Regions from separate parts of the Homo sapiens genome. Here all the other regions are linked to region 1. Evidence: fine-mapped expression QTL. A gene starts in region 1. Each other region holds a variant in brackets. All regions are shown on one strand. Distances are between the middles of the regions.

Region 1 (2,500 bases):
GCGTGGGGCAGTGGAGCTGGACTCCCTTCCCCGCCGCCCCCGGGCCCCGCGGGGGTCTGCAGATCCCGCTTCCTCTGCCCCAGTCCTCCAAGTTTGCGTGCTTTCCCACAGAACTGGCGCAGGCAGGGGCCCCTTCGCTGGGGTGGCGAGGCCAGGCGCGCATCTCCGCCTCGCCCCCATTCATCCCGCCAAGGTGAAGCGCAGGGAAAAGGGGCGCCCCCGCTTCGCCCGCAACGTGCGTCGCTCCGGAACCCAAACAATGACTCCCCTGCCTGCCGCGCCCGGCCCTCCGCCCGCCCCACCGGCGCGCGGGGGGCACCGCCCGCGGGGCTGCCCCTGCCTGACCCCATTGTTGCCCGGCGCGGGCGATGCCCGGCGCCCAGGGGCGGTCCCCGCGAGCTGCCCCACAGTCCCGGCCGGCTCCGCCCACACCTTTCCAAGTTCGCTGGCGGGCGAGCCGCGGGGACGACCCGGGCGACAGCCCCCTCCCTCCACTGCGCGCCCCCACCCGGGCGGGTGCGGCGAGGGGTGGGGGCCCAAGCGGGCTGCACGCTTTTTGGGTCCCCGAATTCTCCTAAGCCTGTCTGGCGCGCTCTGACACAAAAGAGGAGACTTTCTCGCGGCTCGGCGCGAGTCCTTGCCCAGCGAGTTGCTCTCCAGGGGTCCCTCCCGCCGCAAGCCCCCGCGGGCCCCCTCGGCCGACGACTCCCCGAGCTCCCAGGGCCATGTGTGGGTTATTTGGGGTGCCGCAGCAAAGTGGTGCAGGTGAAAGGGAAGCGCTGCCGAGGCCCGGGGCCGGAGGGCGGGGGCAGGGGTGGGGCGGGGTGGGGCGGGGTGGAGGCGCCGCGGACCCAGCCCGGCGGTCCGGGCGGGGAGGCGAGGGCCGGGCAGTGGGTGTTGCCTTCTACCTCTGCGAGCGGGGAGGGGTTAGTTTCCCACAGGGGATTTCAACCATCACACTCAGAGCCCGCCTCCTAATCCTCGGGCGGAGCGGCTCGGGGGCCCCATTTTATGGCAATAAAGCGACTTAGCGCCTGCTGAGCGAGCCCCTCCCCGCCGCCGCCCCCGCCCTCGGCCCCACCCCGGGGCTCGCCGGCAGCGGCGGGGCTTTGTTTCTGGGGAGGAGGACCCGGAGCTCTTTTGTTTGGGGGTTTCTTGTTTTCGGCCCCCCCCCTCACAGCACCCCACCCCACCCCACCCCAAGCGCCTCTCCGGTTTCCTGAGCTGCGGGCTGCGAGGGAGGAGAAGCGGCGTCCTGCAACCCCCTCGGCTGGGCCCCGGGGTAATTCGATGCGGGCCTGGCGAGGCTCCCCACACTAGACCGGGGCTCGCAACTCGGCAGCCTCCACCCACCGGCCCACCCTACATTTAGCGCATCATGTGATCCGGGTAAGTCATTTGCAAGTACAACAGTTCCCCGGGTTGCCCCCCATTCATTTCCTGAGAACTGCAGAGAGCCGCTGAGAGGCTCTGCGTGTGCGTGTGCGCGGGTGACGCCGTGTGTGTGCGAGTGTGTGTGTGTGTGTGCGCGCGCGCGTGTGAGAGAGAGAAAGGGAGAGAGAGAGGGGGACTCTGTGTGAGGGAAAGAAAACAATTTCTCCTGCTCTGCAGCTTCTGTTCAGGTCTGTGCCGATTCCGTTTCTTATCAAAATAAACAACCCCCTCCTCTTTTTTTTTTTTTTTTGCCATCCCAAATCAGACCGTATTCTCTTAACGTGTTTTATTTTCCTTCTGTCATCTGCTCAAGTTAAATCATTTTGGTTGGTCTGTGTTCTTAAAGGGGGAAAGTGCTGGGAAGCGGGAGGGGGCCGGGGAAGGGCGATGCTGTTGCAAAGCAAGTAGCGTCGGTCGGATTCGTGGAGAAGAAAGAAGGAGGTTTCTTCCCCACCTCCCCTAATTTTTTTTTTCCAGAAGAAGTTATCAAGTAACGTGAATTAAGCAAGTGTTTTTCTACCCCTAGTGGAATTGTTGGTTGCAGTGTTTGCCTGACAGTTGCCAAGGATGTGAAATAAAACCCCAGGGCTGAACTTGGGGGGGAGGGGGGGCTCGTGGAAGTAGTTGGCCCCCCGGCCTCGAGCGGGGTGGATGAATAGCTCCGCACCGGGACCGTGTGGGCTGTGTGTGCGCGCTGGAGAGAGTGGAGGGGAAGGGGTTAAGGCGGAGATGACACTGCTGGCATGAATAGTGCTCCTGGTGCTACATTCATTATTGTCTCTGGTCGTAATGATGTGTAACTGTCACTTGCTACAGTGCCTGGTCCATGCAAGTAGCCAGGGGCTGGCCGGTGGCTGTTATTTTCAATTACGGGGGACCTGGCCGGAGTTGACAAGGGGCAACTTTGTACGTCCACCCGGGCCGGGAACCCGCAGAGCCGGCCTGGGAGCCACTTCTTGCCTCAGAAGCTCACTCTGAGGGTTCAGACTTGACCTCCGCGACATTAGTTGGTGTTCACGTTAGATGCTCCCCTACGGGGAGAATCAGTCCTGCTTTTGTTGGGTAG
Region 2 (2,849 bases), 66 kb before region 1:
GGCAGATAAGGAAACACAGGGCCACCATATGACTTGGCTTCAGGAAACCCTTTCTGTTATTCTGAGACCACTTAAAATCAGATCCAAAACTAATAGTTCCCACTGCTGAATTGCAATGTCAAGCTGAATTGTCTGACTTGCCAGGTTTCTATGGTTAAAATTAATGCCCTGCTTGGCAAAGACTGTCAAACTAGCAATTGGAACCATCTGAGAGGAGCCAGAGAAGCCTGGATTTCCCAACTCCTGGGTCCCTCTGAATTACATCTCTGCATTTATCTGTTCCCGCCAAGAGTAGAATGAGAGGCAGGTTCATCATGAGGATTCAAAAGTAACTTTAGATCCAGTGATATTCAAAATCAGAGTATGGGGAAAGAAGGATTATATCAAAAAGAACTTATAGGAGGTGTCTCAGGAGTCCTGGGGAAGAGCTTATTGGGAATAAGTAGACATGAATTTTACATTTGCTTAACCAAGGAGAACAAAACATAATTTGAAAAGATCTAGCCAAACTTATTCTAAGATCAGGATGAGAAAGGAAGGGAAAGAAGGGGAAGAAAAGGAAAAGGATTTTACCTACGTAGGCACATTCTGAGCTTTACGGTACCTTACATTACAACAAGAGGATGTGACCAATACAGACTGGTGTTGTAGACATCATTCTATGCTGCCAAAGGTTTAGACTGGACATGGCCAATGTGGAAAAAAAGATTTACAAATGATGCAGAAGATAGAAATGTTAGAACATACATCTCTCCTTGTATCCTACTCAACTCTTCTAATAGGCTCTCTATTTGATCTGGGACACACACATTTCTTTTAATGTTTAAAAATAATTTAATAAGAGAAGGCATTTTGAGAACGAAAACTGCATCTTTGATTAGGATGTGCAGATAGTGAAAAGAATCAGATATTAAAAAACAAAAAGATTATGCAAGTATACCTTCATTTAATAAAATAGTAGCACCCAAATGAGTGTGACATTTCTAGTGCCATAGAATAAAACCTAAAATCATCTGTGTGTTGGGCTCCAGAACCAAAAGGGAACCAAATTAATAGACATTCCCATAAAGTTCATCTTGGTAAGGACAATACTAATACGCCAAATACCTTATAGGGTTTGCAATTAAAAAACTGAGAGAAAGGGCCATTCGCTCAGTTTTTTAGTTTTTCCGGAGCAGAGGTGTATAACCACAGAGAGAAGCAGAAACTCTCTATGACATTGAATTCATGTGGCAGACCTGAGATTAACCAGTCCTGATGATCTCTATGTCCAGTTTGCACGTGAAGAGATCCCCTTTTTCTCAGAAAGATCTGAGTGAGTCTGACTTGGGCAATCGGAAGATCTTGACTATCATCTCTCACCAGGGCTTTTGCAAGCTGGTTTTACATTCTTCAATCTTCAGTCTTTTCCCTCCACTCTACCGGCTATCTAATTCCTAGAACAAAATTTCCAAGACGAAATCCAGGCAGATGATTCCATCTTTAAACCCTTCCATGACACATAATATGATCCTGCAGACTTTTTCTGTTCCTTTGCTTAACACACTCATGCTTCATGCTCCAATCACAGAAACATCAAGTTCCCCCAGCCGGTCAGTTCTACTGCCAATAAACATATAGCTTTTTCTCTCCTCATTGCTTCCATCCTCTGGTATGCCTGAATCTACCATCCACCCTTGGTGAACTCTGAATTATGCAGGACTCAGGCTAAAAGAATCCAATTAGGCCTTCTCAGGAAACCCCCCCCC[TG/G]AGCAAGCTTAGAAAAGGTTAGCCATGTCCCCACATCCATTCCTCTCTAGCTCCCTTCTCTGCCATTATGCAAATGATCACAGCTTGGTCTCTCAGTTTACCCTTGTGTTTCTCCCACTGCCGTGTGATCTCCTTGAGTGGGAAGAATGCTCTTTAAATTTAAAAATCAACTTTAATTATCTTTAAGGCCTCAGCACCCAGAAGTTAAGTAGGATGCTATAAGTGTTTACTGAAAAAAAATGACTAGTGATCATTACTTACTAGATGTCATCAACAGTCACAGGTAATACCTGAGAGAGGGCTTGGGATTGCTAAGATGAAGTCTCTGTGTAGAGTTCAGGGACAGATCACCACGACCTGTTGTATCCCATTTTTTTGGGAAGCCCAGCAAATCTAAAAGTGAATAAATTTCAAATCCTCTCTCCTAAGGCCCATTCCCATGACTTGGAGAACTTTCTATCTGATCATGTATTCAGGACGTTATTGACAATCAACATGGCTATGACTCTTACACAATTCTTTTGTTTCACTTAAAATATTGGGCAATAAAGTTGTGATTCTGCCATCCTGCAAGTAGAGAGAGCCTCTACAGGTCCTGTACATCCTAACTCTGTTTGTGTGCCAATATTTGAGATGTAATATTCTTGTGAGTTCCTCCTAATATTTCAGCAAGCCTTTATTAATAGTGCACTACATGCCAGGCATGGTTTTTATTGTCACCACTTATTGAGTGTACAGCAGGGCTAATAATTCATGCACTACCAGTCAGGTTTAAAAAAATGTAATTTCTTTATTTCCTACATTTTATCTAATTTCGCTCTCAAGCTACCACACTTCTGGGTAATGAGAACAATGTGACTGTTGAATTGAAGTATATCATTTCTTTGGGGCAGTCACTTTGAAGTAAATCGTTAGTCCTTTCACTCTTCTCCACCTGCATTCCCAAGATGGTTTCGGATATGTCAGGAATTTTCAAGACCATGGAGTTTTTGGGTTAGAAGGCATCTCAGGGCTATGCCCAGGGATTTCAGGAATGAATGACCTTTCGATCCGCACTGACTTCTGCAGGAATATCCTAACTGCCAGTCTCTGGCTGTCCT
Region 3 (2,849 bases), 200 kb after region 1:
TGTAGAGGAGGGAATTGCACAAAGAGAGAGCTCTGGAGATCTCCAGAGGGGCCCACTAAAGGGTTTGGTGAGTACTTATCTTCCTGTGTATTGGAGGAAGGCAAGGAAAGGTCGGCCATACAGCAGTAGGTTGAACAATTCTTGGAGCTCACATAAAGCTGACAGAAATCAGGGTGGAGAGACCTCTTCATATGTGAGGCATTGGGAAGAGGGCTTGGAAGGGTCACAGCTTAGTGGCCCTGAGTCCTGGAATAGACTGCTCTGGACCTACCCTGACAAGCCTTAGAAACAAGCATTGAAAGGACCGAACTGATCTGCAAGTCACTCAGCTGTATACCAGAACAAAAATGCACTCCAAAGAATACACGATCTAGTGCTGAATGATGTAAAAATCACAATGTCTGGCATCCGATCAAAATTACCAGATGTACAAAGAAGCAGGAAAATAGAACTTATAACCAAGTTTTAAAAATGAATCAATAGAAACACATCCAGAAATGACAAATAATTGGCAAAGATCTTAAAACATCTATTTTGTATCTTATATGCTCACAAATGTGAAGGAAAACATGAAAATGATGAGAAGAGAAATGGAAGGTACAAAAAGATAAAAAATTAAACAGATGAAACATACACCATGTATGTCTGTTTTTGCATTGCTGTAAAGAAATACCTGAGGCCAAGTGCTCACGCCTGTGATCCCAAGGGAGGTGGATCACTTGAGCGCAGGAGTTCAAGACTAACCTGGACAATGTGGTGAAACCCCATTTCTACAAAAAATACAAAAATTAGCCAGGCATGGTGACACATGCCTGTAGTCCCAGCTACTCCGGAGGTTGAGATGGGAGGATTGCTTGAGCTCGGGAGGTGGAGGTTGCAGTAAGCCAAGATCCCATCACTGCACGCCAGCCTGAGCAACACGAGACTCTGTCTCAAAAATAAATAAATAAATAAATCATGGCAGAAAGCAAAGTGGGAGCTCGTGCATCATGTGGTGAGAGGGAGCTGGTGCCAGGATAACAACTTGTGAACTCAGAGTGAGAACGCATTCATTACCATGAAGACAACACCAAGCCATTAATGAGGGATCCGCCCCCATGACCCAAACACCTCTCCCTAGGCCCACCTCTAACATTGGAGGTCGCATTTCAACATGAGATTTGAAGGGGAAAAAAACTTCCAAACCATATCATACTGTATTTAAAATTTTAAAAATACAGTGGATGACATTAATAGATACTGCAGAAGAAAAGATCAATGTCTGAATACGTAGCAATAAAAACTATCCAAAGTAGGCCGGGCACGATGGCTCATGCCTGTAATCCCAGCACTTTGGGAGGCCGAGGTATGTGGGTCACTTGAGGTCAGGAGTT[C/T]GAGACCAGCTTGGCCAACATGGCAAAACCCTGTCTCTACTAAAAAATAAAAAAATACAAAAATTAGCCAGGCGTTGTGGCTCATGCCTATAATCCCAGCTACTCAAGAGGCTGAGGCAGGAGACTCACTTGAGCCCGGGAGGTGGAGGGTGCAATAAGTTGAGATCGTGCCACTGCTCTACAGTCTGGATGACAAAGCAAGACTGCATCTGTCTCAAAATAAATAAATAAATAAATAAATAAATAAATAAATAAATAATAAAAACCTATCCAAAATAAAGCACAAAGCACAGAGAGAAAAGAAATAGAGGCTTAAGATAAAAACAGAGCTTCAGTAAGCAGCTGTGGAACAATAGCAAGTTGCTTATCATACCTACAATTGGACTTTCAAGAAGAGGGAGATCAGAAAAAAATATTTGAAGAAAAAAAGCTGAACATTTTTCAGATGGGATGGAAACTATAAACTCACAAATCCCAGGAAGTTTAATGAGCCCCAAGCAGAATAAATGGCACTAAAACACAGAATAATCAAATTGCTAGAAACAAGTAATAAAGGACATAGTCTTAAAAGCAGCCAGGGGGCAAAAAATACACCTTACACATGAAGGAAGATAAATCAGTCTTCTTATCTGAAATCAGTCAGGAAAGAAGAAAGAAATTGCAGGCAGAAAGAAACGGATACTAGGTAGGAATTTAGATTTATACAGGAAATGAGTAATGGTAAACATATGGGTCAATATAAAAGAATTTAAAAATCTTTTTAAAAGACAGTTGACTGCTGAAAGCAAATATAACAATGCATGGTGGAGTTCGTGACATATTGAATGAAAATGAGTAGTAACGACAGCACAGGACAGGGTTATGGAAGGAAGTATAGGTAGAGTTCTCCCACCACTTGTGAAGTGGTATGGTATTATTTGAAGGTAGGTCAGTAAGTCGTAAGTGATAACTTGTGATAAAGCCTTATGTTGTAAATTCTAGAGCAGCCACCCACACAAAACAACCAGATACAGTTGTCAGGACCAATAGTGGAGATGAACCAGAAACACTGCAAAAAAAAACCCCTCAATTTATCTAAAAGAAGAAAAGTCAAAAGGAACAGAGTACAGATAGCAAGATGGTACATTCTAGAGTAATCAAAGGATAGAATCTAGAGTAGTCAAAATCTTCGACAGTAGAATGAAGTTGCCAGGTGTTGGGGGAGAGGGAAATAGGGAGTTGTCCTGTGAGTATAGAGTTTCAGTTTTGTAAGATGAAAAAAGCTCTAGACATCTGTTATACAGCGTTGTGAATATAGTTAACACTACTGAGTTGTACACTTAAAAATGGTTAAGAGGGTAAATTTTATGTTATATGTTCTTTACCACAATTAAGAATTTAAAAAAAAACATTTTTTGAACCAGAGGGCTTAGGATTTATAACTGTATAGGAGAGCAAATATGGATTACTAAACTGGCTAAGGGGAGACTTGAGCAG

Alleles and levels. Positions count from the first base shown, and alleles are read on the strand shown. Sizes are in standard deviations (SD) of each study's normalised expression. Not every link is listed here.
For the expression in atrial appendage of the gene that starts at base 957 in region 1, C is the low allele of the variant in region 3 and T is the other (small effect, 0.33 SD a copy in GTEx).

What was found. PIP is the estimated chance that this variant, and not a neighbour inherited with it, causes the effect. A credible set is the group of variants that fine-mapping cannot tell apart.
Region 2: its variant is the best candidate, but not a certain one, in a credible set for the expression of KLF12 in fibroblasts (GTEx, PIP 0.65).
Region 3: its variant is the best candidate, but not a certain one, in a credible set for the expression of KLF12 in atrial appendage (GTEx, PIP 0.69).

What each region holds. Positions count from the first base shown.
Region 1 is chr13:74,132,861-74,135,360 of GRCh38, reverse strand. KLF12 (KLF transcription factor 12) reads left to right here and starts at 957. Exons shown (of 8, transcript NM_001400136.1): 1 at 957-1,389. RefSeq lists a silencer at 1-1,210 and enhancers at 2,220-2,269, 2,300-2,479.
Region 2 is chr13:74,199,090-74,201,938 of GRCh38, reverse strand. It overlaps a transcript of KLF12 not described here. Among named protein-coding and RNA genes, the nearest start is that of LINC00402, 31 kb to the left of the region's middle. The variant TG/G (reference allele first, on the strand shown) is at 1,749.
Region 3 is chr13:73,933,734-73,936,582 of GRCh38, reverse strand. All of the region lies in intron 3 of KLF12 (KLF transcription factor 12), which reads left to right. Among named protein-coding and RNA genes, the nearest start is that of KLF12, 200 kb to the left of the region's middle. The variant C/T (reference allele first, on the strand shown) is at 1,374.